Regions from separate parts of the Homo sapiens genome. Here region 2 is linked to region 1. The links come from fine-mapping of genetic effects on gene expression. A gene starts in region 1. The other region holds a variant in brackets. All regions are shown on one strand. Distances are between the middles of the regions.

The links. PIP is the estimated chance that this variant, and not a neighbour inherited with it, causes the effect.
Region 2: its variant is fine-mapped to the expression of SAMD12 in atrial appendage (GTEx, PIP 0.91).

The regions. Positions count from the first base shown.
Region 1 is chr8:118,614,678-118,631,051 of GRCh38, forward strand. It overlaps SAMD12 (sterile alpha motif domain containing 12), which reads right to left and starts at 7,286. Exons shown (of 4, transcript NM_207506.3): 1 at 7,127-7,286. The coding sequence starts at 7,139. It overlaps SAMD12-AS1 (SAMD12 antisense RNA 1), which reads left to right and starts at 6,324. Exons shown (of 5, transcript NR_038210.1): 1 at 6,324-6,509; 2 at 6,858-6,978. RefSeq lists enhancers at 6,279-6,328, 6,359-6,568, 7,179-7,378 and a silencer at 7,479-7,628.
Region 2 is chr8:118,576,546-118,592,919 of GRCh38, forward strand. SAMD12 (sterile alpha motif domain containing 12) reads right to left here. Exons shown (of 4, transcript NM_207506.3): 2 at 4,170-4,348. Among named protein-coding and RNA genes, the nearest start is that of SAMD12-AS1, 36 kb to the right of the region's middle. The variant C/T (reference allele first, on the strand shown) is at 9,288.

The DNA.
Region 1 (16,374 bases):
CAAAGGAACAAAACTTGCCAATAGCCCCAGCACTCTGGGAAGGAGGCTGCTGAAGGCAGTGAGGTGGGCCACCGCTGTCACCCAACAGCTGCTGTCCTGTCCTGCTCTTCACGCGGGAGGCAAGCTGTACAAGCAGATTCTTGCACCCACACTTTAGAAAAATCAGACTAAATATAGCCAAGTTTGCTCTCATGAGCCAGCTCAGAGCGGGTGGTGCTGCTACATTCCACTTCAGAAAACTGGGGAGGAATCAACTTGATTTACAAGAGAGCAGCTTTCCACGCTTGCTCTTGTGGTTTCAAAAGGACCATATGCAAGATCCAACTGGACTGTGGGGAATGCTGCAGGTTTGGCCAGGCAGATAATAGAGCCCTTAGGAAAAGGATTTTACCAGACATGAGTTAGGAGGCTCCCCATTCGTTTTCCTTCCTATAAAGGGCTAAACTACCACATCCCTGGGACATGGGGGAAATCCATTAAGAAGCATGCATTATACATACACTACTCAGTTTTGTGCCCTTTCCCCGATTCCCACCCATCAAAATCCTACTCAAAAGCTCACTCAATGCTACCCCTTTCGTTAGGCTATCCCCACCCAGCTCAGAACTAAATGCTCCATTTGTTCTCAGACCTCCCACGTCATGGTGCTTGCACTTTTATTTAGCACTTATATCATTCAGTCTAATCTGCTTCTCTTGTCTCCTTCCCCCAGTGGAGGCTGCAGGGGAGGGCCGGGACTGGCAGGGGTCAGAGTGGGCTAAGCTCCCTTTCTTACTACACTCCCCACCACATCTCGTAGAGTTCCTTGTACATGGGTGCTACTCTACTGCTTATCAACAGAAAGGCACCATCTGCTTGAATGCCTGTGAATGAGCATTTGCAATATCCCCTTTCTCATAATTAAATGCACAACAGCTGACACTCACTCGCCAGAGTTCAAGCATGGGCTTCAGATCCCCAGCTCCCCCTACCCTTGTAATATGTCACCACGTCATCCACTGTGACTCAGCATTACAGAACACAGCTACACCAGCAAAGGTTTCCCAGTTTCTGCTTCTCAGCACCAGCGCTTGTTTCTTCATTCAGGCGTGAGAAAACAGCAAGGCAGATGAGAAAGAAAGGGTGGGATAAAAGGAATTAGGAAGGGCTGGGCTAGGAAATACAACAGTACAATTAGACTGAAACCCTGTCCGAACTAGCTAAGAGGGCTACAAAAGAGATGGGGGTGGCAGGAACTGCTGCCACAGCAAGTTTCAAACTAGGTTGGAGGCCCCATTCTTGTTCACACAGTCACTGGAAGGAATTTTCAATGACGAACTTCTAGCCGTCATTCTCCTTCCTAAAACAAAGTGATCAATAGAAACTCTGGTGCAGGAAAGTCAGATCTGGTGGTATAGAGAACATAATAAAAATAAGAAAAAAAGATCCTCAGGAATAAGTGAATGGGAGAGAATCAGGGAGTAATTAGTTTAACAATCACACAATGAAGCTGCTGCAGGGATAAGTACCTATGAGGGAAACTTGTCCATCGTCTCACTGCTTTCATGACATCTGCTCTGTAGAGGAACACAGTTGGAAGTTCTCATTAAATGTGTATGGGAGTTACTGTGGGAATCAAAAGCAGTCATAAACCCACCCATTCCTTCATTTGTCTCCATTCATTCATTCAAGCTTCAAGGATGAGACATGAGACATAGTCCTTGCCGTAGAAAGTACCACCAGTAGAAGAGGTACATTCATAATGATGTTCCCAACAAGAAAAGGTAGTTAGGAAAGCATAGGTGAGCTAGCACCAAGAGAATCACACAGAGGCAGGACAGAGCTTCTTGTGTTCTATGAAGGGAAATCCATCAGAATTACACTTCTGGTCTCCCTCTTTACCCTCTGGGTCCTCCTCAGGAGAGGAGAAATCAACTCTCTGATGAGCAAGTCTGTGAAAAGGCACAAAGCATAGGTTCCCCACCTCTTCCTTTGGGTCCCACCTGCCTGCTGCAGGAGCCCATGTTCTCTCTGCTCTCCAGCTGCCAGTGGTATAGAGCAGGGGTCCCCAACCCCTGGGTTGTGAACTGGTATCAGTCCGTGGCCTATTAGGAACCACACCGCACAGCAGGATGTGAGCAGTGAGCAAGCAAGCATTACCACCCAAGCTCTACCTCCTGTCAGATCAACAGAGGCATTAGATTCTCAGAGGAGTGCAAACCCTACTGTGAACTGCACATGTGAGAGATCTAGGTTGCACATGCCTTATGAGAATCTAATGCCTGATGATCTGAGGTGGAACAGTTTCATCCCAAAACCATCCCCCATGGAAAAACTGTCTTCCATGAATCTGATCCCTGGTGCCAAAAAGGTTAAGGACCACTAGCATAGAGGGAGGCATCCCTATGACGGGTAAGTTCACTGCTGCATACAATATTAGCAAGCCCACTTACCCTCCAACCCAAAGTCAGAAAAAAATAACCCACTATAAGCTTGTGATAAAAATGATGTTTTTATCTCCCATGTGACTCCTTTTACTCTCTGTGATGCAGTTCTGAGTTCAAGTTGGGTACAAAGTCATCATTTATGGGGCTGCAAAGCCCAGTGTTTACCGTGACTGCTTCTATTTGTCACAAACGTTTGACGCTATCTCATTTCCCATTTTCCCAGTCACCGTTATTATTACTTAGCCTTACAATATTTTGGTGATGTGTAGTTTCTTCACTCTTCTACAGGAGAAAAAACATAGAACCTGAGCACTGAATGACTTATCAGAAGATATTTGGTAAGCTACCATGTTCATTTATGATGGAAAATTCAGATCCCTTAATATAGATGTCATTAAGAGCACACAGTCTTGCATTTGACATGTTTTTCTTGGGGAGAGAGGTGAGTGCTGAATATTGGAAATCATTTTTCTGCCACATGAGAGGTGCTATTCTGTTAGACCTGGAATAGAAATTACCATGTACAATGTCCATCCTCCCTATTTTTTTCATAAATATCTGAGGACAAAGCAAGAAAAGGAATTGGGGATGAGGGGTAAAAAAAAAATCCTTCTCTAGCTCTGGAGACTCGTGCATTTATATGTCATTCATGAAACAATGACTGTGGGCCTCCTAAGTGCCAGGCGCCATCCCTGGAATACAGAGATGAATACAAAGATGAATACGACACTGTCCCCAATGAATCCACATTTTTCTTCTCCCTGAATAATATTGCAACCCATTTCTGTTAGAAAACATCAATAGGTTTAACCGTCTATACACAGTCTGTCCATAGAGAATGGATTAGTTTGGGGTCCCTGCTACCTCCTTCCAAGAGGTCCTAGTCCCCAGTCCTGCTAAATTATTTCACAAGACATTGTTTTTGTTTTTTTTTTTTTTAAAAAAAGGCAATGTATGCCAGTATAATCCTAATCCAAATGCAGACCATAAGGTCGTACCCTGTTCTGTGGCGGGAAAGCATACCTGTAAGCTGCCCATAAATGCAAAGCATGGGTCACAAGCAGACTAGGAGACATAAATAGGATGTTGCAAATAAACTAAGAAGAAAACATAACACAGGGTAGTTACAAAACAATAAACAAAGGGCACCTCTTTTTCATCTTAAACACACGGCTGCAGGTTCAGCAAAGTGAATGAGTGAACTACTTGCTAGTAACACTTTTACAAATTCAAGTTTACTTAAGAAAAAGTTACACATAGTAAAAAACCTTCTAATTTGTTACTAATTAGAAAAACTGGCTGGCATGAATAAGTGAAAATTCAGGATATAAAACACATGCCAAATAGTATAGCTTTTCCTAAGAGAAGGGATGAGAGTACAAGTGATATTTACTTAGGATGCAGGTTCCAGACACCCTTCTAGAAGCCCTCTCCTTTATTTAATCCTCACAATGAGCAGGGCACGGTGGCTCACTCCTGTAATCCCAGCACTTTGGGAGGCCGAGGCGGGCGGATCACGAGGTTAGGAGATGGAGACCATCCTGGCTAACATGGTGAAACTCTGTCTCTACTAAAAGTACAAAAAAATCAGCCGGGCGTGGTAGCAGGCACCTGTAGCCCAGCTACTCGGGAGGCTGAGGCAGGAAAATGGCGTGAACCCGGGAGGCGGAGCTTGCAGTGAGCCGAGATCGCGCCACTGCATTCCAGCCTGGGCGACAGAGCAAGACTCCGTCTCAAAAAAAAAAAAAAAAATCCTCACAATGTTCCCAGGAGGAAAGCAGTAGTGAGCCCATTTTTTCCAGATGTGGAGACTAAAGCTTAGAATGTTAAGCAATTCGAACTGTATTTTCTATTCCAGTTCCTCTGGCAAAACTCCTTATTCTCTGAAGCAGCATTTCTCAATAAGTTGGGTAAACTGATCATTACTTGGCCATGGCTTGGCCTCGTTATACGGGATGGCCATGCGCTGCAGGACATTTATTATCTGTGGCCATGGGCACAAAATACCAACAGCAGCCCCCAGCAGCAGTTCCTACATATCCCAAATGTGTCCAGGGACAATGTCACCCAGCAGTAGAGGTAAACTGTTCTAAAAGATTTTTTGGGCATCAAGACAAAAGACTGAAGAGAAGGGCACTTCGAGGTGGGCAGATCACGAGGTCAGGAGATCGAGACCATCCTGGCTAACATGGTGAAACTCCGTCTCTACTAAAAATACCAAAAAAATTAGCCAGGCATGGTGGCGGGTGCCTATAGTCCCAGCTACTTGGGAGGCTGAGGCAGGAGAATGGCGTGAACCTGGGAGGCGGAGCTTGCAGTGAGCTGAGACCGCGCCACTGTACTCTAGCCTGGGCGACAGAGCAAGACTCTGTCTCAAAAAAAAAAAAAAAAAAATCTCCCATCCTCAAATCTGTCAGAAATCCCTTATTGTATCACATTTAGGCTTCCAAGAAAGCCCCATGTACCCTTATAGAACCAGTTACAAAACCTCCATGAATATATTTGCCATGCAATTCATGAGCATTGAGTACCTATTATGGGCAAAGTACTGTGCTATGAGCTAGGAATATAAAGTCCAAGTCTAACCCCCAAGGGGGTTAGAGTCTAGTAAGAGGCAGATTAAGTATGATAAGTATTAAGATAAATGTGAGCAGGAGGCACTTCCCATAGACTGGAAAGAGTGCTGAGAAGGCAGAAGAAAAAGGAGGGCTGGGACAGTTTCCCAGAGGAAGTGACATTTTCCCAAAGGCTTGAAAGACCAAGTAGGAGTAACCAGGAAGGGACTGGTCCAGGCTGATATCTTTGCAAAGACCAAAGATAGGAATCATATTTGAAGTTAAAGTTTAAAATACTTCCTTCATTCTTTGAGACCTCATTGTGATTCAAACTCAGGATCTCCTGTTTACTAGACAGGTACTTTAACCAAGTCACTAGAAAATAAACTCTCCATAGTCCACATGTACTTCCTTCCTAAGTTCTTGTTTTTGTAAAGTCTGGCTTCACTGGTGTAATCACCCATCACGCAAGAAATAAGACAAATTTATACTTCTTACAGGGAACAAGAAATTGTTTTCGAGAACAGTGTGGACTAGCAACAAAGAGGAGTGTCCCTGTCTTGGGGACACAGGAGTGGTGAAGACGAGAGATCATAATCAGTGTCACCTGATGGGTGACATAGAACGGACACTTAAGGAGTAGGTCAACATATCCTTGGTCTCAAGCTCAAGATGAACTTTATCTCGGCTTTTGTTTTGTTCTTTGGCATCTGAAGTCTTGACTATCAAGCATAACGATGCAAAAAAAAAAAAAAAAAAAAAAAAAAGATTCTCACCCTACTGGTACATTTGCACAGAAAAGAAAACCTAGAAAAATCTTGATTGTAAGAGAGAGAGAGGATTTCATTTTTGTTAATAAAGTTAGGAAAGCTGGAAGTGGCTGGCTGTGGATCTCTGAACCTGAGATAGCCCAAAGGCAAGAGTTTCCCGAGTTTATGGGTGCTGAGTATAGGAGCTGGGTTGTTGCTACTTCAGGTTGTTAAGACAGTCGTTATAAGGGGAGCAAGAGTCAGATTAGTTCAATTTCTTTCTCCTGGGGCAGGGAGGAGAGGGAGCAGCAAGCCAGCCTCGTGGCCTTCTCGTCTCTAGCCTACAAGGAATAGGCTGATTTCCCCTTGGCAAGGCGCCTGAAGCAGCTGGCAGGCAAGCCCTCCTCTTCCTACTTCAGTACGCCCTCTGACCTGACTGCACTCAGAAACCAAAATTCTGCAGGTGAATGTAGGCTCCCATTTCGTCCCACAATCATTTCATCATTCAGGCACAGCTTGACCTCTAATGTGACATCACAAACCCTTCCGGTCCACAGTTTTTTTTTCTTCTTCAGAAACTACCTAAACAAGGAAGTTTGTGTTCCAAGGTAAGATAACCTGAAATGAAAAACTCAGGATCCCTCACGAACAGCCTGACCCTGCTTTCAACCAGGAAGTTCAAGGGAGGCAGGACTTTACGGTCAAAACTGCAAAGCCGAAGCTCAAGACTGTAAGAAGAAAGTGATCTTCAAAGAAAAGGATTCACCCAAATCGAAGAGGTTGTTGCACTTCTTTTCCCTGGCTGATTACATTTCATGTCTGTAAACTTTGCTAAGCCCGGGGCGCTGGCTGTATAAGCAGAGACAGGTGTAGGGACACCTCTACCCTCTGGGTACATCTGCGGCCGCCGCTGCTGGGTGCATAGGACGAAGGGCCCTCGACCCAATCCCAGTCCAAGCTTCCGGATGACGCACCTGGGCTGGGGACCTCTCCCACGTGAGGGGGGCCAACCAAGCATCCCCAGCCCCGGGGCCACCCAGCCTGCTCCGGAGGGAGGGGGCAGGGAAAAAGGGCATCTCGGGGCCAAAACCTCATGCCGGATCCTCCGGCTTTCCCCCCATTTCCAGGATATCGTTTCGCATCAGGGACACTCGTCTCCACACCTCCTACCTCAAAGTCCTACGCACCTACCCTTCACGTCTCTCCAAAGCAACTGAATTAAAGCGCCTACTGGCCTTGGCGGCGCAGGTGAGTGCCAAGAGGTGGAGGAGGAAGGGGCCCGCTCTCCGCCACCCCCTTTCCTCGCCTCCCCACGATCGCCAAGCTTCATCGGGGATGTGTGCCTTGGGGTGCGCGGGTTAAGAGGGAGCTTAAAAATGCCCCAAGCGTCCCTTACCTTCCACAGCCATTCTCTCAGAGCTTCCCTAACGCATGCATAATTTTCTTGGCCGAGGTACTCCTCCTGCCCCGCGCTCCCCCCTTCCTCTCGCTTTCGCCTAAATATTCTGCGCTTATCTGCTCCAGGACCAACCTGCCGCGGTCACGCAAAGCGAGGCAGCCGGCTCCCGGCTCGGCGCGCGCAGGGCGTCCTGGGAAGTGTAGTTCCCTCCCTTCGCTCGGACTGGGGAGAGCACCCCGACTCCTCCGCGGAGTGCCGCCTGGCCCCGACACTTGGAGAGCAACTCCAGCTTCAGCTGGCCAGGCCGAGCAATCTCTCCTGGGGAAGTTGTGAGGGGACCAGGGATGCCTGGTTGTGGCGGGGCGGGGGGGGAGGGGGGGGGGGTTCCCGGGAAGCGGTCTGGACTACATCTCCCAGGAGGCCGTGCGCTGAGATAGGTTCGCTGCTAAGAGTAGGGACCCGTGATTGAGCCCTTCCCTGTCCATTACAAGGGGTTTGGCACCTAGCAGGTGTGGTGAGGTGGGCAGGTGACGGTCAGCTGTGTGATGAGCTCCTGCGAGCTCGTCCGTGGGCCTCTGCCGCCGGTACCGCCCCGCCCCCTGGCCTCCTGAACCACCATTTAGTAGGGAGAGCAGGACCACTGTCCTCCTGTGTGGTTCTCCACCTGGGCCAGAGAACGCTGCCCAGGGTGAGGTTGAAACTTGTTCCTTCGCACCCTGAGATGTATGGGTTTTGTGGGGGAATTCCGACGGTTGATACAGTTGTCTTATCCTACAGGGTGGTTCAGGTGGCTAAATACTTGGCATGGGGGTGTAGGGGAGGAGGAGTGGCTTAAACCCCAATAGGCAACGTCCCCAAGGGGTTGTTAGGAACAAAGTCTGGGAGCCAGGATTGCACCGGAGGAGGTCAGATGAAAGCCTGTCTGGCTTCCAGGATAGGAGGCTTTCAATTTGCCTAGACTTGGAGCCTGTTGACAGCCTGTGATAGGGCCTAATAATTAACAGTGCCTGAGAATCAGGTTCCTTCAACTTCTGAACCTATGTCCTAGCTGTAGGTGCTGGGGATGCTATAAGCAGACATGATAATGGGAATCACGTGGATAGCAATACAATTCGACAGCTCGTAAAAATTAAGTTTCTAAACATTTTTTCCTGCGTGTGAAAATACGGATACAGTTGTGGCTGGAAGGGGTAAGGGAATAGCCTCGGGAATAAATCTGGCTCAAGACTGGATTGACTTTTAAAGGCCTTCAGTTTACAAATGTATTTGGTACCACATCCACCCAGTCACTCATATATAATGTTAATCTCTGTAAAATGAGGAAGTACAAAAATCGGATTCTTCCCATGATGACTACTTAGACATTTTTGTGTGTCTTGGTCATCAGCAAAAAAAAAAAAATGTTTTTCAAAACAATTTCGTTTCTCAGTGTATACATGCACACCTGTTGTTCTGGTCACTAATTACATGCTTAGTTCCCCTACTGGGTAATATATAATAATAATATGTGTATAGGTACTTTAAAAAATACCTGCGTGTAACCATTAAATGCTCTTGTTGATACTTTAATTCTGAGTCCATGGAGCTGTGTACAAGTCAAACCTAAGCCTCTCTTTTAGGTACAGTAGAGAGAGACCCATTCAGTGAGACATAATTTCCATGGGAAAAAGAATTTTCCGACCTAATACACAGCCAAGCATTCTAAACTCTGGAAAGAACTGAAATCCAGGTGCTTCACTACTTTATGTATATAAAATCACCAAAGTGTTAAGTATTTTCTGAGATTGAATGAATGTGAAAGAAAGCCATAGGACAGGTAGTATCAATGGTTCTCAACCTTGGCTGTGCATCAGCCTTCTACAAATATATATTCCTAAGCTTTTATCTTAGTCTCACAGAATCAGAGCTTATGGGGGTTTGGGTAGAGGCACTCAGGTTTTAAAAACCCACAGGTGATTCCAGTCTTCATTGAGGGTGAAAACCATTGGTCTGGTTCCAAGCTTTTAAATATCTGGGTGATATAAAAATATAAAAGTCATTGAAATCTGTGGTTAATTTTAAAACTTCATCTTAGCTCATCTTTAATATTTTTCCCAGTGATGTGCATTCTAGACGAGTTTTATTTTTAGTATAAATAAAATGTGAAGGAGATGTTAGTTTCTACCATATGAAATAGCCAATGTTTGACCATTTTTAAAACCTACAAATAGAACAATTTCATGTGGTTCTGCCTAATAAGGGATAAACAATAGTTGCGCAGAGGTTTTCAATTCTGGCTGAACATTAGAATCACCTGGGAAGTACTAAAAAAAAATTACATTTATCTCTAGAATGTTTGAAAGATAAAGACACAAAATACCAACCGTTGGCAAGATTGTGAAGCAATAAAGATTTATATATTGCTGGTGGTGTGCAAATTCACAAAACCACTTTGGAAAACCATCTGAAATATTCAGCTGAATATATGCTTATCCTGTGACCCAGAAGTTCTACTCCTAGGTTTACACCAAACAAATATGCATACAGATGTTCTCCAAAAGACATGTGCAAGAATGTTTGTGGCTGCATTATTTTAATGTTCCCAAATGGAAAACAACTCAAATATTTATCAACACAGATTGGAGAGATGAACTGTGGTATAACCAAATAATTCCATATAGCAGGGGTCAACAAACTAAGACCAATGAGCCAAATATGGCTCACCATTTATTTCTTATAACTCACCAGCTAGGTGTGATTTTTACATTTTTAAATGGTTGGAAAAAAAACAAAAAAAGTATAATTTGCAAAGCCTGGAAATTATAAAGACATACTTACATAATATCCTCAATTTTGCCTCTTGTCCTACAAAGCCTCAAATATTTCCTACCTGATCCTTTGCAGAAAAAAAGCTTTCCAAACCCTCCTATAAAGTAATGCAAATGAAGGAATTACAATTGTATACAACAACATGATGAGCCACATGTATTAATCGATTGCTGTTAACAAATTATCCCAATATTTAGTGGTTTACAACAATACCCATGTATTACTTCAGTTTCTGTGGCTCAGTAATTTGGGCACAGCTTAGCTTCTGCTTTAGTATCTTTCACAGACTGCAATCATGACTTATTTTTGGTCTTTTTTATCAGCAGCCAAGTACAGTTCCTAACAGATATACCCAATTTTAGCAAGGGGCAAAGTCCAGACCTCATCCCATACCTCTCATAAGCCAAATTCTGTGTTCATTATGATGCTATTGTTTGTTCCTTATAGTATATAAGCACTTCGAGTGCTGGAACTGAGTCTTATGCTTCATATCTTCCAGATTCTTGGTCATAATTGTGGTTACATAGTAAGTACTCAATAGATAATTTATTACTACTATTTTTTTATCCTTGTTATAAGTAGCATTTGTTGGGAAATTACAAGTGCCAAGCTCTGTCTAAGCATCTTGACATACATCATCTCCTTTAATCACTACAATATTGTCAGATATCACTATTTTCCAGATGAGGAAATTGAAGCTCAGTGAATTTAAGTAATTTGCCCCATGTCTCCAAAACATGAATTGTAGCAAGGGGATTGAGGTCTACCTAAGTGTAGAACTCTGTGATGTTACTCCATCTAGATTTCAATACTGATTACGTGATCACAAATCTGAATTCATAAGCACTTGGCCAAATAGGAATTGTCATTACTAATAAAATGAAGGGTTTAAAATATTTTAATATCAGAAATTGTGATATTTAGAATGATTCAAAAATTTCTGAATATATCAGAGAGCACAGAAAGGGAAGGAAAAGCCCATTACCTTATAGTGAATTAAATAAAAAAAGAAATATTGAGATGAGGCTACAGATTTCACTGGATTCTAAGATTTAAAATAGTACATATAAGTACTTTACTGTATTTATTGTTCTAACTCGGTTGCTATATTCACAAGCCTCTACAGAAAACATTCATAAATCTCAAAAAGTAAATAGATTATGTTTCTATTCTGTTCAGGGAGATCTTCTAAACCTAACCAAAAGGATTCAAACCCTAAAAAGTAAAATTTTTGACAGGAGGAACTGAGAGGAAAAAAATAATTTTTTTGTAATTAAGATAAAAAATACTAACTCTAATCCTTGAGTCATGAATAAAGTGCCAACCATTCAAGTTATATCAGGCTTCCATTGGAGGAAGTAAGCATATTTCAGGGAACATGATTTAAGCAAAAGCCTAGTTGTTTTTGCTTAAATCACATTGTGCATAATTAAATCGCATTGTGTGTTATCTGTTTGTTGATAAGTTGGTGATATTCTATACCATCGTTCGTCTAAACTATACTTTCAAAATCAGACTTAAATTATGTCTTCAAAATTTGAGCAGAATCTGTCTACCTTTATATTAACTGGTTATCTGAATATTTGGCTTCAGTACTCAAGTTTCGTAGACATACAGAACTAGATTGTAATCCTGACTCTCATTTACTCGATGTTGGTTATTAGCAAAGTTCTTTGACATTTCTGTGCCTTGGTTTTCCCACATGTATTGTAATGCTATTAATTGTGTAATGTATACATTACCTAGCTCACAGTTTGGGGCTCAGCAGTGACTGAGAGAGTATCTATAGTGTTGTGCGCTGTCCTGGCACATAATGGATGCCCAATAAGTGTTTGCTCTTTTGATCATCCATGGAAGCCTGAGAGGCCATTCCCAAAGAACATGGATATAATTCAGTTAAGCAGTAGCAAGGGCCTCAGGATATTTGCCAAGTGTGGAGTAAGTCTGCCCAGTCCGACTTGTAGTTAAGCCACTGAATGAACTTAACTTGATCAATGCAGAGCCTCCTCTGACAGGCAAGAAAACAGGGCTGTGCCATGGAAGAGCAGTGTCCTGGACACTTGTCCCTTTTTGGATAGGTTTTGTTGATAGAAAAGAGTGTGGGATTATTGTAGGCTCTAGTGGCTGACTGCATACAAACTTTCTGTGTTCTGGATTTCCAACCCTGAAGTATTAGGTTGGTGTAAAAATAATTGCAGTTTTTGCCATTTTTTTTTTTAATGGTAAAAACTGCCATTACTTTTGCACCAACCTAATAAATTTGCAGCACCTCTTCTGAGCAGAGTTGCCCCTACTTCCCCAACCAGGGGAAATTGTAAACTGTGTGTAAAAGCATAGGAATGGTCATCTGGAATTACTTGTCATTGGTACACATCAGCACAAGAGAACACTAGAAGAGATGCAACTTATTTTCACAACTGAACTATTCTATGCCAGATGTTTAAAAACTTAAGGTGTGATGGGCTCCCTTTTACTACTACTTCCAAAATGACCAGAAATCTTTACTAGGCAGAGATGCTAAAGCTGACCGCTTACTGTAGTTATTTGACCAGTCCTTTCCCTTCCCTTCTGTTCCTCTGTTAATAATTACCTAATAAACTTTATATTTTTAATCATTATATAGGGTACAGTGAGCCTTCACATACATTATTGCATTTTATCTTTACAATGGCTGTCAGTGGATAGTATTTACTTCATTTTATAGGTATGAAACAGAGGCTGGGCAAGGATGGATGATTAGCCCAAATTTATACACCCAGACAGAGCCTGAATTCAACACTTGAGACTTCTGCATTCAGTACTTTTTTCATTCCATCTCAATGTACTTTCTCATCAGGTGTAAAAGTGCCACTTACCCTATTGGCTTCCAAAAATATATTGAAATGCACTCTGACAGGAAGAATCTCATTTGATATCGGGAATTTCAACAAAATCCCACCTTATTTGGGCAAAAGAACTCTCTAAGAGTGAAACTTTTCTTGAATGAGCTTAAAGTACAGTGATCTTAATGGAAGATTTTAGCTAGAAGATATTCATCTTCAGTACTCTTCAAGTCTAAGCTACGGTTTTCTCTCACTAAGACCACTACTAATTTCAGTAGTTTACTAATTAGTCTATCTGCATACAATTCTTCCCCAGTGTGGCTTCTCTCCACCAGCAAACAGAATGGTATGACCCAAATCTAATCATCTCACTCCAATTTGAAGTCATTTGATTGCATCCCTTTACTCTTTGGTTAAAGCCTACAAGCCCTAGCAAAGTTTTTCTTAGGCTCCCATTCTGGGTTAGTTTTCTCCACAACACTCATATCAGTTTGTAGGAATATATTTATTATTTTCATTTAAATAGTGTCAGTATCCCCACTAATTCCATCGGATTAAGAATGGACTCTGATTTTGCTCCCCTTTGATCTTCCAACCACTAGCACTGTATCTGGCCCAACAATACATACTTAATACATGTATTATGTATCTGTAAGTACTGTCTGACTGAAGGAGCACATGAGTAAACTACCTAATCATAAATGTGTTTATTTTTCCCAATTAAACTGCAGGTTAGTATTTTGTTTGTGTTTGTGTTAATGTTTTATACTCTTAGAAGTAGGCTTTTTTTTTCTAACCTAGAATCTGTTCAGAAAGGACTTAGAGGCAAGTTACTCTAAGTCCTATCATTTCACAGTTGAGGCAGAAAACCAAAAAAGTTTGCCAGGATCACATCATAGCAGAACAATGTCTAGAACCCAGGTTCAGGCCAAGGTTCTTCATTGGTGGTTTGATTTTTGTTTTTGTTTTTAGAGGATGTGGTGGGGAGAGATTTCTGTTCCACTGGGCTCAGTTTGGCTTGGTGGCTGAGCTTTCAGTCAAGGAGGCTGGGGCAGCTCTGCTCCTCGCTGCAGGTTTTTGAGTAAGCTGGGGAACTCTGCCTCAGGCTAAAGGGGCAGCAGCTAACGGCAGAGGAGCAAGAGAGAAAAAGGAAATATGCAAGGCTTTTAAGCCCTGTCTCAGAACTGCAGCACTTTCACTTCTCTTACATCATGTGTTGAATCAAGTCATAGGGCCAATCCAAAAGTCAAGGTGTATTAGTTCATTCTCATGCTGCTAATAAAGACATACCTGAGACTGGGAAATTTATAAAGGAAAGAGGCTGGACCAAAAACATAAAGAACCTTTTCTTTTTAGGAGGCCATATGCTTTCTTGTTCTCCCTGTGGGAGAATAAAAACCCCACATGTTGTGGTGTTGCACAAAGAAAGAATGGAGTTGGGCTTTTGTGGTTAGAGATGAGAAAAGTCCATCAGTTGTCAGAAAGTAAGAGTCTGAGGAATTCATGCAGTCAGAGAAAGACAAAAGGCTCTGCAGGTGCTGATGACAGATGACTGTCCTCATAAACCTGAAGTCATGATCTAGGGCTCAATCCTAATGTCTGAAAACTCAAAGAAGTAGAAGAAAAATGGGACCTAGGAGATAATTTAGATCGCAGCTGGGAGAGAAAGGACACAGCACACCTAAGATGTGCCTTGTGAGATAAGGCAAGTATTAGCATGGTGCAGCCCTGGGTTTCACCTTTGACTGGCCTTTTCTAGCCTGTGATAACTTTTAGTGAAAAATGTGGCATTCAAAAGGTATCTCTGCAAGGTCTAGTTTTATTCAGGGATCCTAAAAGCTGGAAATATGAACCTTGTGGGGCTGGGGAAAATTATTGGCTAATTTTTGCCCCACACTTTTAAATGCTAATAGAGTAGTATCTGTTAGGTATCTTCGGTGATGTGGTGGTGTATTTGTTAAGGTCATCTCTGCCTTCCTTGTAGAACCCTTCTATGGATGCTTAGAGGTTCCTTATTCTCTTCCTCTGGGCTTGTCTCAAAAAAACAACAACAATAGGCCAGGCATGGTGGCTCACACCTGTAATCCCAGCACTTTGGGAGGCCAAGGTGGGCAGATCATGAGGTCAGGAGATCGAGACCATCTTGACCAACATGGTGAAACCCCATCTCTACTAAAATACAAAAAAATAGCCAGGCATGGTGGCACATGCCTGTAGTCCCAGCTACTTGGGAAGCTGAGGCAGGGTAATTGCTTGAACCAGGAGGCAGAGGTTGCAGTGAGCCGAGATCACACTACTCCCCTCCAGCCTGGGTGACAGAGTAAGACTCTGTCTCAAAAAATAAATAAATAAATAAATAAATAAATAAATAAATAAATAAATAAAATAAAAGACAATAACAGACACACAAAAAGCCTCCCCGAAGCTGTGGTTTCTTATAGATGCTGCCTTACATGTGCTGGATATATTAATTGATTCCACACAGTGATACAGTAGAAATACCCTGGACCCTGGAAACATAGATCAGAGTTCAAAATCTGCCTCTTTACAAACCAGCAGGGTGAACTAAAGCAAAAGGATTAACATCTCTGGCCTTGGTTTTCTCATCTATAAAATGGACAATATCCCTCACCAGGTCTTTTTGAGGGCAAGTTATTTATCTATCCAACAAATTATCCCCAAATTTAGTGACTGTGATAGTTCATTTGTGATGTCAACTTGACTGGATGAAGAGATACACAGATAGCTGCTAAAGCATTATTTATTACCAGGGCTTCAGTAGGCACTGAGCCTGTCCATCATCTGCTGAAAGGGAAACCCAGGTGGTTTGGGATTTGATTCCAATAATTGGGTTGCCCCAGGTGTGTCTGTAAGGGTGTTTCCAAAAGGGATTGGCATGTGAGCCTGTGGGCTGAGTGGGAAAGATCTGGTCTTAATGTAGGTGGACACCAATCAATCAGTGCAGTGTCTGGATAGAACAAAAAGGTATAGGAAGGGCTAATTCACTGTCTTCTAGAGCTTCCCTTAGAGCTGCCCTCTCTTCTCCTCCTGCCCTTGAACATTAGAACTCCATGTTCTCCAGCTGTTGGGCTCCAGGACTTATACCAGTGGACCCATGGGCTCTCCAGCCTTTGGCTTTGGACTGAGAATTACACCATCAGCTTCCCTGGCTCTGAGGACTTCAGACTGGGACTAAGCTGCACTACCAGATTTCCTGGTTCTTGGGCTCACAGATGTCCTATCGTGACTTCTCAGCCTCCGTAATCGAGTAAACCAATTCTTCTAATAAATTTCTTTTCCTCTCTCTCTGCATATATATATATATATATATATATATATATATATATATATATGTATATCTTTTAGTTATTTTAAATGTACAATACATTATTGTTGACTATAGTCACCTCTGTGTGTGTATATATATATACACACACACATACACACACACACATATATATATATACACACACACAGAGGTGACTATAGTCAACAATAATGTACTGTACATTTTAAAATAACTAAAAGATATACATATATATCCTATATATTTATATATATATCTATAGGATATATATATATTTTTTTGAACCAGGCAATATATATATATAACCA
Region 2 (16,374 bases), 38 kb before region 1:
TTTATCCATACTTCGCAGCATAGGTCAAGTTCTTCCTGTGCTAGAGTACCCTCCCTTGCAAGTCTTGTTCTGACTGCTCTGTGAGTAAAGGGTTAAGGAATCTCAGGGCTGGCCTGTCTGAGAAGGACTTCAGTCTCCCATAGGGCTGGTTTTTTGGAAACTGCTATGTGGAACCACTCCTGGTCTTTAGGAGCTGTGGCTTTGTCTTGAGTCTACAAGACTAGAAGGATATAAATGAATGGTGAAAAAAAGAGGCTGTGCCTTCTTTGTATCAAAGAGACTCATCCTCATCTGGACTCTCAACTTGGCAGCTGTGTGGGTGATGGGTCAAAAGAAGCTGTGTACTTGGATAACTTCTGGACCTCCCAATGCAATGAAAATGCTTTGCCACTGTATTTCTTGCTTGTACCCTCCTATAAAGCTATGTAAACATAGTTTTTTACTCTTAAACTGGTAACTATAGCTGTGGCGTGGCATGGCATGCATATTCTCTCTGAGTTTCCAAGTACTCACAAGAATTTAGGACTTATGTTGGTAAGTATTTTTTGTGGATCCACATTTCAACTGGATTCATTTTTTTATTTCCATCTAGACTGTATGCTTCCCAATAAGACTTACAGGTGATCTGGGTACTCTACTGGTTTCTCTTTGGTCTGTAAGAGCTGGAGGCTACTTGTGGCCAGACAACCTTTTTCTTCTGGAATAAGGGTTCTGAGTGTTTTGAGGAATTGGGGCTAAGGGTCCCAAAATGTCACTTTCTAAGATAGAGTATTATTCTGCCCAAAATGAATACAGATACACACACACATTTTAAAATTATGAAAGCAATACAAATTTCAGTGTCAACAGGGTAGATTAAGCACATGCTACAATCCTCCCCCAATCCACATATATACACAGACTCTAGCATTGCCTGTTAAAGATAAGCTCATTAAGCTCCTCTGGAACAGGTGGTGTGCTGAGGGATTGGTTTCAAAGACCAACATGGCAGGGCTCAAAGTGGCAGGGCCCAAAGGCACACTAAGGAGCTGGAACCAGGTTCCCAGTGAGAAGTCTGCATATGAAGGAACTTGATTTGCATAATCAGTCAGAAGCAAACAGAGAGAATGTCAAATCGAAACATTAGTGTAATACCTGGTCAGAGCTCTCGCATCCCAGAGTTCAGGTGAAGGCAGATACAAAAGCACCTTACCAGAAGGCTCTACAATTCAAGGCACACGTGGCCAAAAGACCCCACGATAACTCACTTCTCTGACAAATAAACCACCAGCAAGAATTAGAAGCCATGTGAGGAAATTCAGCACCCTAAAAGCGTAATACTAACCCAACAAACAGAAAAAGTCATGGTTGAGCTACTAAAGTTAATGGGACAATCTGAAAAGGGCTTTAAAATAAATACACTTAAAAGAATACATATCTTATTTAAAATTCAAGCAAAGCAGTACAGAAAGTAAAAGTTTTCTCCGTAATTTTAACTTCAGATAGAATCTGCTGCTCAAATTGTGGAAAACCCTCCTAGACTCAGTGATGCTCTTATACAGAGACAGACATTTTTACATAAACGGAAACATACAATATCTACTATGTCATAACCTGCCCTTCTCGTTCCCTTTCTACTTTAAAATATTATCACATACATTTTCCCACATAAATACATACAGGTCTTCTACATCCTCATAAAGGAAAAATTATATCCCATTGCATTAATACACAGTTTCTTTAGCCAGTGTCCTGTGAATGAACATTCGGGCTATTTTCAATGTGTTCTCCTGTAGCCATCTTTGCACATATGAATGATTATTTCCTTAGGTAAGTTCCTACAGAGGGAATTATTGGCCCCCTAATGGCACACATTTAAAATTTTGATAACTATTATCAAGCTTGTCATCCAGAAAAGCTGTACCAATTTACATTACTGAATGGCTTTAGAGGTATGCATTTCTAGCCACAGGTTTTGTAAGGTAGGTTTAAAGTAGGCCAATTTACCGGAGATTCAATTATACACCCAAGAAAAGAGAAGACGGCTTACAACTCTACCAGCCCTCTAAATGCAATGGAAGGGAAAATGTAAATGTGTTTGTACCTGCACAAAACAAGTTCATGTTGTCTAAGGTACAAAAGCTTCAGGGTCAGTCATGCTGCTGGCATCCACAGTAATCACACTGTAGTAATTTTAACTGTTCCCCCAGCAGCCACTGTTGTTTCCTCGTCCTCCATTTAAACAACTGGACAAATTCTTTGTCTAAGCTTTCTTTACTAAAGCCTCTAGTCTGTTCACCCCTAAATATGATGGCAGTGTGAAAAACCCAGAATCTCCTTTCAACCTCATTTGTTGGGGATGGGTGTTCACTGTAGATGATTTGCATAAACTCAAATGAATCTGGTTTCCAATATTAGTTTGTTCCAGAAGAAAGGCACATTATACACATCCACACTCATTGAAGTATGTTTTCAGCAAAGGAACTATAAAATGCTTCAGAGGCAAAGACACAAAATTTCAGGATTCACAATTCACATATTCAAGATAATCAGAAATAAAATCATATCAGATTTGAGTCAAATTTTGTATATTACCAATATCTTTACAAATATAGGAGATACACACTAGAAATGTTTAAAGTTGAATTTAAATCAGACAAATATCAATAGTTAACTTTTCTCTCTACTCTAATTTTTAATATTTTAGGCATCCTTTGGAAAATATCTCACTCATAGAAAGTCTGTTTATCTTCCTAAAGAGGACCCTTAAGGCGTTTTTTCCTGGCTCTTTCAAGATGCCCATGTATTGATCAGGTTTAGCTTTCTTAACAGGGTTCACTCATTTCCAATGTTGTTCACAAACCAAACTTCATTGATCATCAGCCAGTAAATATCCTATGAGTTGCCATTTCTCTTAGCTAAAATGTCTAGCGTAAAATGCCTGCAATATATATCTTGGTAATCATTCCCCATTCCCTACCACACACACATACTTAATGTCAACAATTTTTAATTATCCACACTAAAGAAGAGAAGCAATAACAGTAATTATTCCAAACTGTACATAAAGCAAAAAATTCACATCTGATTTTGGAAGACATTATTTGGAGGAGAAGGGAGGTGGTTATTGTACAACAGTAAGGTGACCTTTTTCCTTAAGATTTTTCTTAGGTGCTTACAACATTTGCTTTCCAAGGCATGCATACATTCATTTGCTCAACCAACATTTGAAAGGAAATTGTCTTGCAGGGAATACACAAAGGGAGAAACAAAACTATATGAAGATTAATTTCCTCAGTGTCCAAGAGGAAAACTAATATGAGTATCTTCAACAACACTGTGCCCCCAACATGAACATCTGCACTGATTTCAGACAAATATCCAGATAGTGCCAGTCCCATTGTAGGGAGCCTTTAGAAGAGGCTGTCCTTACTAAAAAATTACCTACCCCACAGAATCCAAGTTTCTGTACTTCTTCACCAATGCCTATTTTGTCAGTTCTCTGTTACCTATGTTTAGGTTAAAGACTGAAAAGAACTAAGCATACTACAGCAGAATAAAATAATTTTCTCTTTCACTACTTAGGGTTCTATTTACTATTGTCTACCTCACAAGATTGTTACAGGGACACAATAAGTCAATAGATCAAGAGTCCTTCAAACAGTACCTGGGAGATACATGCATATTTAATAAAATATCAGCTATTACTAATTAACAATACCTGTAAGCACAAGCCTCTCATACTCATGCAGTACTGGGGCTTTTATAAAATGCTTCCACAAGCATACAATCGTTTGATCTGCTCAACCTGATGAGAGAAGTCATTTTATGATTCCCTTGTGTAGATGAAGAATCTGCAACTCAGAAAGTCACATGACTTTCCCAACACCATAGAGTGGTAAGTCTGAGCCTGGCAGGTGAATCTTTTAGCTTCAAGTCCAGGGCATTCTTCTCTATAACCTCAGAGCCTCACACTATGAGACTGGCCACAAACGTGTTTCAATTTTATTCCAAAGGGAATACAGTTAATATTTTCATTTATAATTATTTATCCGCAAGATACAGTGCTCATTTGACCACAGATACAATGGTAATTAGTGAAAGCACTATCAGCTCTTCTCTGTAGCTGGACTACAACATATAAAGGCTGCAGCTTTCAAATCTCCGTAATTAACTGGAATATTACGCACCTTAGCCGTCTCAGCTTCTGCCTGCAGTCGCTTGGGAGTTCCTTTCTGGTCAGGCACCTTCTGGAAATTTTTATTTTTAATGGATTGAGATTCCACACCTTCACCTTCAATTTGCAGTTTAATACCTTCAGCATGGGCAGGGTGATCAATACCCCGTGGATTCAAACCACAGTGGAGAGCTAGGAAAAAGCAACAAATAGAACTCAGAAAACAAACCACATAAAGAAGGTGTCCATGACAGAAAATATTCATCAAGCCTAAGTAGGAAAAAAACGAGGCATCTATGAGTCGAGAGGTGGTGTGATTACTACGATAAATAATATGGTGAGGAGGGAGCACGGTATAGTGGGAAACCTTGAGCTTGGAAATCAGCAAGATTTAGGTACAAATCCAGAAGCCCTCAATTCCAAGTTGTTTGACTTTCAGCAACTTACAAATCCAAATGTTACAGATGAGAATACCAAATCAGGCAACGTTGTTACTGCTTCCCACACACGCAATCATGCAATTATTTCAACCCTGCAGTTTAGTTTGTATCTCTACCTCCATCTGAAAAGTGCTCACCCTCTCTTCTTCTGGACCTTCTTTATTATTTAGGCATCCACTCAAGTCCACTCTCTTGCATTCATCTAAGCAATATTTCTTAAGCACTTACTATGTGCCATCCCTGGGTTAGATCCTGGAAACATGGATTTACATATGACAGATGTTACCTTCAAAGAACTCACAATGTAATAAAGGAGGCAAACAAAAGGACTGGTGATTTTCAAACAGAACTGTCACTTCTACATGGCAAAGAAAAAAAAGCCAGAGTGGAGGGCTCAAGGGCATCAAGCCCAGTGGCTTCCAGTTTTTTGCATCTTACTCTCTCCATGCCCTGTAACATAGATATTCCACAAATAAAACCTAAAGCTGATTTTCTGGGGATATTTATTCATCTAACAAACGCTTACTGAGCCCCCCTATGTACCCTGTATTATCAAATAAATAGCAATGAATGTTGTAAGATCCATGCATTCCACTACATAAACCACCATGTATGTCTGTGTGCAGATGGCAGGTATGTGTGTTTTGACTTCTCTGGTAGTAAATTATTTCATTTCCCTGTTACCCCAACTCTTCAAATTCAGGTAAACTCCTATCCTCATCCCCTTTCCTTTATTCACAGAGAAGTTAAGGCCAGATACTTAATACCCCCATCTTCCCCAGGTCTCCACTTCATCAATAATCTTTTACCCAACATCTTTAGGCTTTCCCCTTTCTCAGCATTCTTCCCCTCCAGCCAGCTTCCGTGACTCAAAAAGTCCAACTCTCTATTCGGCACTCCATTTAGGCCATAGTTTCCTCTTTGCCTCATCTTTGCCAGGATTCTGATGAGTACTTTAGACCTGAGGGATGAGGCAGGCTTCCCAAAAGAAGTGAGGTGTTTTCCTCCCACTATCCACTCCCTCCTTAATAGATATCATCTATTCCTATGTTCCCAATCAACATTCTGGTGACTCCCAAATATTAACTGCAGCCTAGACACACCTTTCTTATGAATGTCAGACAAGTAAAACTGCAGCAGAAACAATTTGCCTGTTTCAGTCTTCGCAAGTTACACAGAAACTGATGAGACATCCTTAACATCACTCTATGATCCATCACTTTCCTTTCATCTATCAGCAAATCCAACAGCTCTACACCTAACATACTGCTCAAATATTCAATGATATTTCTTTAAAAAAACAAACTGATTGCACAAAGGTCCAAATGCACGTGATCTTATTTCTACCACTTTATGTGGACATTATTTATGAATTTCTCTTCTCCTAGTCTCTAAGCTTCCTATTTAGTGGTACACTCTGGGCACTTAACATGTATTAGTTCATACCTCCCTTTTGGGCTTTGTTCTGAATCTCAAATGATCTTCATGAAAAACTCTGAGACATAACTATGTTCATTTCACAGATAAGGAAAATGAGGCTCAAATGGGTTAGGTTCACAAAAGGGCATACTATACTGGTGTGTACAGAAAAGTCACAAAAATCATGGCCCATTTAGTATACACGATTTCATATTACACATGGAAAAATCCAAACTAGATTAAATGGTATGGAAAATTATTAGCTGACAGAACAAGAAGTCCAGTGATGGCACAAGTTCAGAATTAGCTGATTTGCATCTCGGTAGTTTCATCAAGCACTGTGCTTTTTTTTTTTTCTTTCTCCATTCTATTATCCATAGCACCGACTTTATCCTGAACCTGGGTCCCTTTGTAGCATCTAGACTACAAGCTTTAGTTTTCATCTTGAAGCAGAAAGGGCTTGGTTGACTATGGCTTTTTCTCCCAAACCTCCTTCAAATTTTATTCTCTTTTCTCATTGGCCAGGAGTGAATTACATGCCTATTACTGAACTAACATGCTGGCAGTGGAAATAGGATTACCCTTAAACCAACTGACCAGCTCAGGTCAATTCCCCAAACCACACTGCTGCTACTCAACAGGGCTGTAGCAGAATGGATGCTGGGGAACCAACAACAATGCCCACTTTAGGCAGTGCTGGAAAGAGAACTTAGTAGCCAAAGCCTCTGAGAGCTTGAAGCTAATTACTGTTATTATCAATCAGCTTCTCCATCTCCAAAGACTGGCCTACTTACAATGAATATTCAATTAAATACATCAAAGTTGTGATTATTTTTAAAAGGTGTGCTTGTGTAGGGAGATGGGGGATTGGCATGGGATGGATTCAGACATTAATGAAGAAAAGAAAAATGTGTAGCTTTGATCTTTCTGTCTAGCTTTATCCTCTGCTGCTTCCTACCTTGAAATTCATGACCTAGGAATACCACTGAACTGCTGGTAGACCTCCTATTCTCTTCCCCTATCACCTCCCCACCAAATTTGACTCTTATACTTCCTTCACCTCTGATCACGGTGGTCCCACCACCTAGAAATGCTGGTCCTACTCCAACCTAATCCTATCTCCTGCTCTTTGGGAGGCTAAGTCCTATTCACCTCATGTCAGCTCAGACCTCTTCTTCAGAAAGCCTTTTAGGAGTCTCTGGCTACCACAGCAAGAAACCATTCCCTATGCTCCCTCATGCACAGTCCCCTGGTGCTTCATTTTCCTCACAGTACTAAGAATGTCCATGTAATTGATCTGTCTGCCTTGCCCAGCACAACTGTAAGCTCCTGGAAGGCAGGTACCATCTGTTTTTCATCTCCATGACTTCCATTCCTGAGTCCAGGACCTGGCACATAAGAGACATTAAGGAAACACTTGTTCAGCTGCAGAATGAACCAGCAATTCCCTTCCTTTACGCAATCATGCCTTAAATCAGAAGAAAGCTTTTCTCTGCTAGTAAATACTTGGCATTCAAAATGTAAGGTATCTATAAACAGGAGGCAGAATACAGTTTTTTGACTTTCCACACACGTAGGCTTATTTTTCACACAAATATTTTAATCCTCCATAGCTGTTCCTTCCTCCACTGCAAACTCCCCAGTAGTTGATTTAGGTTTTTGTACTTAGAATTATTTATTTAAAACCATTTTTGATAGACTTTGCTTTGTTTTCCCTGAAATTTCATGTCCCTAATATTTACAAATCAAACAACTCTCCAATGGCCTCTTACAATGCATGACCTCCATCTCTTTGCTTGTGTCAAAGGTGTCCCCTTTTGATTTCTCTTTTTTGTGTTCATCACTGCCCTTTCTTGTTTTCCCTAAAGTTATTTACTTAATTTAATGGGCTTGGCAGCTCACTGGTCGGCTTCGAGACCCTCTTCTCGTTTCCCTAATCTTCACCACCACTCCTGTGCCTGACGGATTCCTAGTCATTGAACTGACACCGCAGGCAGCTTGTGGTCTTTATGGGAAGTGCTGCTGCTGTCACTTTTACTTAATTTGAATGTCATTAATATTGAATTCTTCAAAATGAAGAGTTAAAAACCAAAATGAATTTCACAAACATTGCTCTTAAAAAAATTTAAGAGAGAAATGTTTCACTGCAAATGCACATATTTTAGCATTGTTTTGAAATGCCCTTTTGAAGGCACCATGTTTTTTTCATGTGTAAAAACCTACTTCCCCAGAAAATTGAAAACCAGGTGCATTGCTGGTGGGAATGTCAAGTGATACACCCCCTGTGGGAAACAGTATGGTGGTTCCTCAAAAAATTAAACACAGAATTGTCATTTAATCCAACAATTCAACTTGTAGGTATACACACACACACACACACACACACACACACACAAACACACACACACAAACTGAAAGCAGGAACTCAAGATATTTGTATGCTCATGTACATAGCAGCATTATTCATAACAGTCAAACAGGCATAAACCAAATGCCTGTGGATGCATGAATGGATAAACACAATGTGATACATATAATGAAATATTTTGCGCCTATAAAAGGAATGGCATTCTCATCCATACTACAACATGCATGAACCTTGAAGACATTATGCTAAAGTGAAATATGCCAGACAAAAATGGACAACTATTGGACGATTCACTTATATGAGTTAATCAAATCTACAGAGAAAGAAAATAGAACAATGGCTACACATGGGCTGTGGGAGAGAAAATGGGAAGTTATTGGTAAGTTATGGGTATAGTGTTTCACTTTGGGATGATGAAAACTCTCTGGAGATGGATGGTGATGATGGTTATACAATAATGTGAATGTGCCTAATGCCACTGAACCATATAATTAAAAATGATTAAAATGATGAATTTAATGTATATTTTGTCACAATAAAAAAATAAAAACTTAAAAACCCCACTCCCTCTCATTTTAACTTCCCTAATACCTCCATAAATGGAAAGAGAGGTTCCAAAGATATTTTTATTCAAAGGTTTGAGAGTTTATTTATGAATAATATCATCGTGATTTTCATCTAGAATGTTATTTTATTTTTTAATAAAATGGTAAAAATTATAGCTCAAAAGTATGAGGTTACTTCAGAATTTTCCTGGAAAGGAAATGTTCTCCAAAACAGGTCTTGTCCTAATCAGCAGAAGCAGGGCTTGGATTGCTGATTGCTGGAAATGAGCCTGGGCTCTCCAAGGCTTAGTGGCTGAGGGATGCCATTCTCATGTGATTTAGGTGACAGTAACAGGCTA[C/T]CTGGAATGAAGTGCCAGGCCTTGTTTTCTCTGCTCACAGTGATGCTAGAAGAGTTGAGGGGTGCATTGGCATCTGCTGTCATTCCCAAGAACAAGTGCATCTTAGTCTCCAGGAAGCCACCCAACTTCCAGTTCTTCCAATCTCCACCCACACCACTCTCTGTCATGAAACAAGGGATGGAGACTTATTAAATTTTAATGTTCCTCTATTCTGAGTTTTGCCTTGAATAGAGACACTGTGAAAACACTCCCAGTTGCCCCTCAGAATGAGCTGGCTCCCCAACCAAGGAACCCCCACATAGAAACTGCAAGCAGTGCCCTGAAATGTGTTGTGCTTCTCTACCTTGACAGAACTGACCTTTTACATCATATGCTCTTCCTTTCCCTTATTTGCATAGATAACTGCTTCAGGAAATATTAATTTTTCTCTTTTTTCTACTGTAAAGCTTTAACTAGTCTTGCACCCAGTATATCCTCTTAAGCAATAAAAACACTTCTCCTCTTTTTCTTTCTTTTTTTTTTTTTTTTGAGACAGTGTTTTGCTCTGTTGCCCAGGCCGGAGTGCAGTGGTGTGATCATGGCTCACTGCAGTCTCAACCTCGCAGGCTCAAGTGTTCCTTCCACCTCAGCCACCCAAGTAGCTGTGACTACAGGTGTGCACCACCACACCCAGCTAATTTTTGTATTATTTGTAGAGGCAGGGTTCTGCCATGTTGCCCAGGCTGGTCTTAGACTCCTGGGCTCAAGCGACCTGCCCACCTCGACCTCCCAAATTCCTGGGAACACAAGCATCAGCTACATTGCCCAGCCACCTCTTTTTCTTATATGATCTGTATGTGTGTGTATGTACCATGTGTTGCAAATATTTATTGACAGGTCTGCTAAATCTATGACTAGGAGCCCCCAGAAGAAGTGACTACTTCTTGCTGAGCTTTACAAATGTAGTGTGTAGCCACATAACTACCTTACAGTAGGTGCTCAATCATTGTTTATAGACTGAGCATAGATATGATGGAAAGATACTGATTGAATCCTACTCACTGCCATTCGGTACTGATGCGTAACATATATTTTTCAAAAAAGCAAATAAAAGTTGCTTCCAATCTAATTGTGTAATTCACCAAAAATGTTAAATCACAAAACCATAAAGCTATCCTGAAACTACTGATTTATTTGACTGCCATCTGCAAAGCAGAGACTATCTTATTCATCTTTGCACCTGCAAAGCCTAAACAGTTGTACATACTCAACCCTCAATAAATGTTGCTAAATGAATCAGTGACCTTAAAAACAAATATACTCCAATCCCCACCATTAGTTATTAGAATTGAGATAGGTTATTTCAAATTTCATGTTTATGTCTTGCTTCTAGCTAAAGTTCCTGAAGGAGATGGTCCTTCTTTAACACTTCCCTAATATAATATACACATAACACTCTCCAATATGTTTAATTCATTATATTAATTATTATAGGTGCTTCATTTATTGTATTCTGGATTCGAATTCAGCAGAGACTACCCTCAAGAAGTAATGTGAACATCACAAAAAGTCTGTAACTCTTTGTAGCAGACACTTCTGATGGGCTACACATTCTCAACACTCTCATTTTTGCCACCTACTGAAGTATGGCTACAACGCCAATAGCAAATTTCACAGCTTCCCTTGCAGCTACAAGTGAGGTTGATGACAGATTCCTCCCTAGGGCACATAAGCAGAAGTTTGATGGGAAACAAACAGTTCTGGAACTGACAAAAGAGGAAAGATCTTAACATCACTCTTCCCCTTTGTCTCTGCCTTAAAGGCATATGTGATATCTAGAACTGCTACAGTACATGCTGTGACCACAGGGCTACAAAGATGAAAAAAAGTCAAGAGAATAATAGTCACATTGGCTCTGACATCATTGGGCTACTCGAACTTTGTTCTTCATTATTCTCCTCTGGACTTGAGAGTCTGTGAGAAAAGTAATTCTCTGCTTATTAAGCCATGGTTAGTCGTGTCTTCTACAACTTTCAGATGAACCCCTGCAAAATGACACATTTCCATTTTAACCAATAACATAGGATTGTTTAGCCCTTCTTTTTAAAAGAGAAAACAGAAATCCTAGTAAAATGTTCTGGTCTGGGTTTCACAGCTCCTATTATGACTTAGAAAGCTGAATAAGTATAGTATGAATAACAGATATACCTTAGGAATATACCTTAGGAATACATGTTATTATCAGTAAACTCTGACATCAGAGGTAATCAATCCAGATGACACTCTGAAGACCTGAGGATGAAACTTTCTTGCTTAGCTGGGGTCCTAAGGTACCCAGAAAAGTGCCCAGATCATTCATGAAAACTTTTGCATCAATGAATGGGGATGGGAATGTGTTCCTGTGTGTCTGGTCATTAATGTGTTGACATAAAAATACAACAACTGTACCAGAAAGTATGTCTCAGGAACACAGGCTTGGTTTAGCTAATAGAAAGGGAGCACAACATCTCCTTGGGCAAAGGAAACTGCCCAGCAGATATCTTCTAGGACAGGGGTCAGCAAACTATGGCCCATTGACCAAATCCATCCTGCTGTTTGTTTTCATGTGGTTTGTGACCCCAAAATAGTTTTTACATTTTAAAGTGATTGGAAAAAAACATTTTATGACACATGGGAATTACATGAAATTCAAAGTTCAATGTCCATAAAGTGTTACTGGAAAATAATAAATGAGGCATGCTCATTTATCTATATAGTGTTCATGTCTGCTTTTGTGCTACAATGGCAGCAGTGAGTAACTGTGACACAGACCACGTGGCCTGCAAAGACTGAAATATTTACTGGCTGGCTCTTTGCAGAAAAAGTTTGCTGGCCCTTGCTCTAGGGTAGAGTATAACCATAACCTGAAGGGCACTGGGACCTGATAACCCCAGCCTCCTTTACTCTAGCAACATCAAGGAAGAACTTATGGGTCTTTGCAGGACTAGCCTCTGACTTATTCTGTACTTCCCCACTCCCAGCTAATTTAAATGAGCTAAATTATGCTGAATTTTATCACTTGGGTCAGGCAATGAGGAGACAGAATATGATTTCCAAATTTCTCCTTGGTCAGCTAAATGTGATATTACATATACTTGCTGAAGCTTAAAATTTCTATAGAGGTCTTTTTCCCACTATCAAAAACAGGGGTAAAATATAAATGTCCAGAAGGGTAATTCAGCAGCATTAAAAGCTGAACATGTCCACCCCCAGCAAGTCTAAGTGGCCAATAATAGATGGCTCCCCTATTCCATGCAAGAAGAGACTGGAAAAAAAGAAGTTATTACATCAATGAGAAAGACAGGGGAAGAAACTAAATGGAAACTGAAAGACTGAACCCACAAAACTCGTGCTATTGTCCTCACAAATCTGCCCACAGTAGCCTGACAATGATGATGTGGCTGCCCAAGCTGGACCTACATGACTGTTCAGCACAGCCAGACGTTCAAACCACATGCAGCAGTGTAAGGACATGGTCTTCTCTGGGCCCCACGATGCTCACTCACTCTGGTTTACTTGTCTACAGAAACAATTTCATCTTTGTAAAAACAGTTCGCTATAATGGAATCTAGTTTTCCAAAGACTACTTAAGTTTAATCACCACATCAAATATTCACTTGTCCTACACTTGATACATAGACAACCTAAAACAATGGAAATTAAAATAATGCTTAACTTAGGTATTGCAGAATCAGTAAAGTGGGGACAGACTTTAGAAGATGTCCAAGGCATGAATATTAACTCTTCTCATTCATGAGGAGAATACAAGGGCAGACACATGCAGAAGTTCTATGATGCTTTAGACAAGGGATTCAGGTATCACTTTGAGAGATTGATAAGTGGTCTACACTGGTGACTTTAAAAATATTTTTAACTATGATACTACAGAAAGAGATTTCACATTGTGAATCCATGACCAATCATCTTTATGTATATGAATTGAACCACGTTTTTATGAAATATTACTTTCCTTTACTACATATCATCTACTCTTTATTTTTTTAAATAAAGTAGTTCCTCTTGCATCCTTCAGGGAAGAAGAAATAGACATACTTTTCTCCATTCATCCCACTTAGTAAAGTTAAAAATGATGGACATTATATATGAGACAAACATAAGACAACTGAATGGTAAAGAGAAGGAAGACAATCTAAAGACCTTGAAGGACCTTGAATAATCTGGTGGTGAGTTCTCTCAGCTTCCTTTTGCCTCGTATATCCCAGACTTAGAACTAAGAAACCTGCAACTTGGGAAGAGCTATGGGCACAGAAAAAAAATAATATACAAGAGCTTGCTCTCTGTAACCAAAGGACCAGGAAAGAGACAGCCTAGCAAGGTAGGAAACATGTAGATAATAACTGCTTTACTCAAACATTACAGAAAAGAAATGTGACCCAACCACCACATCAGTAAAGGCTGATTGTAAAGCCTAGACTCACACCCTCACCAGGCTGCACTTAGGTACCCCAATACTCCCAGGAGAATGCCATAGAAGGCCAAGTAGGGAGTCCAGGTTTCCATCTCTGTCAATTGGTAAAGAGGGTACCTCCTCATCTCCAAAATGTCAGCTGAGATGATATGGCAAGGCTGGATTTTCACCTCTACCAGTTTATGAGAGGTGAGCCTTCCTTCCTGCGATTGTGTCAGAGGAAGTCTGGTAGACAGGACTTTCACTATTACCCAGCCATAAGGAAGAAGTCCTACCTTTCAGGTATCAACTGAGATTGAGCGGGGAACCTGGATTTATAACTCTACCTGGCAGTAAGTAAGTGGTATCTCCTCTTTTCCCTGGCCAGACTGGCATTTTAAAAAGCTAGCTGAAATAAAAGGTTTAAATAAAATCTAGAGTCTCATAACACAACATGTAAATATCCAGGTTTCAATAGAAAATCACTCATAACCAGGAAGATACCAAACTGAAAGACAAAAGACAATCCATAGACACCAACATCCAGATGACAGAGACATCAGAACTATCTGAGAAAAATTTTAAAGCAGCTATACTAAAAATGCTTCACTAAGCAATTACACTTGACACAAATGGAAAAAATAAGCTTTTCCAAGAACTAAAGTCTCTGCAGAGAAATATAAGACATGAAGAATAACCAAATGGAAATGTTATAACTGAAATACATAATAAACAAAATAAAAAGCTCAGGTGGATAGGCTCAAGAGCAGAATGGAGGAAACAAAGGATAATTGGAAAGGGTAGAGGGCACTTGGAGAACAGAAATGTTCTCCACCTTGCTTTTGGTTACATGATACAAGCATCAAAACTCATCGAACTTAACACTTAAAATATGTACTTTTATGGTATATAAATTAATCTCAAAAATACAACAAAACAGAATTAAATACAAGCACTAGATATATTTTATTTTTCAAAGCGTTTATAAATGACTTTTGATTTACATGTTTTCATTCCTAACTCTATTCTCGGCCAACACACATTAGTTGAAATCCAAGCTCTACCATTTTCTTACAATATATTTTCAAGCATGGGCAAGTTATATCATCTCTTTTCTGTAAAATGGCAATACTAATATTACCCTATTTTTTACACTCACATTATTATTGTGTTGATAAAGAGAAATAACACATATAAAATTCTTGACACCTACCATGTGTTCAATGAACATAAATCCTCCACTTTTACCCATTGCCCTCCTACATCACAGTAGACAAATATTACATGCTAACAATTTTAATAACAGTTAAATAAACAAAATAGTACCATGCACTTTTAAAGGATAAATACAGTATAGACATAAAAAGTGCAACCTACCTGGAAAAAACAAACTAAAGTATAATTCAGTAGGAAGACAAGAAGGAAAAAAGAACAGCTTTTCAAATACATAAAAAAAAACCTGGGAGCAAATTGGGAAATGAGGTTAAAAATAAGAAATAAAAGCAAATATCTCCACCTCATAACATAGTTTCCACTGACAAGCTGACTGCATTCTCTGTGAAACCAAGCTAATGAAAAAAAAGGTGACCCTAATCATTTAGGAAGTCTTTACATATGACAGTTGGGTATTTTGGGAGGGAAGAAGGAAAAAGTATAGAATTAACATATTCAAAGGACTTTTCATCCTCTAACATGAAGGTGGTGATACCTATTAAAAAAAGGGGAAGACTAAGAGATGCTAAGCAACATGTTTAAGGCCACCATAAAAATGGCAAATAGAAGGCTGGGTGCAGTGGCTCATGCCTATAATCACAGCACTTTGGGAGGCCAAGGTGGGTGGATCACCTGAGGTCGGGAGTTCGAGACCAGCCTGACCAACATGGAGAAACCCTGTCTCTACTAAAAATACAAAATTAGCTGGGCATGGTGGTGCATGCCTGTAATATGAGCTACTTGGGAGGCTGAGGCAGGAGAATCACTTGAACCTGGGAGGCAGAGGTTGTGGTGAGCCGAGATGCCAAAAAAAAGAAAAGCAAATAGAGGAAAAAAAATGGCAAATGGGAAATGAAATGAAATTCAGACTGATACCACATAGTTCCCATGTTACTCTGGGGAATAAGATTTTTTTTTCCTCTGCATTTTAATTATTGTTTAGTAGGTAAATAATGGGCTTTGGAGTCAAATCTGGCTGTCCCCACTGACTAGCTGTATGGCCTTGGTCAAGTTACTTCCCTTTAGGTTAGTGTTGTTTTACCTATAAGATTAGAATAATGATAACTTCTTTATAATATTTTAGAATAATTAAAGCATATTTAAAGTGTTTAGTCAATACATAGAAAGTGGTACATAGAAAGTGCTCAGCAAACAGTAACCACTGCTGTAATTATTACTTCCTTTACTGTTATTAATATTATTTTAATGATATTGATTTCTTCAAAAGTCAAATATCTAGATCATTTGTACATACATCTGCATATACTTGTACACACAGCTCCACTAACAGAAACAGGTGATTAGTATTGTTAGGGAAGGTAGAAGGTTACAAAGGTCAGACACAGGCTTCAGGGAAGAAAAAGATAAAATTCTCTTGAAGGTTCTGTTCTGGAAATAAAAACAAAAAAGAATATTCCAGGCAGAAACAGAAGTATCTATCAAACCACA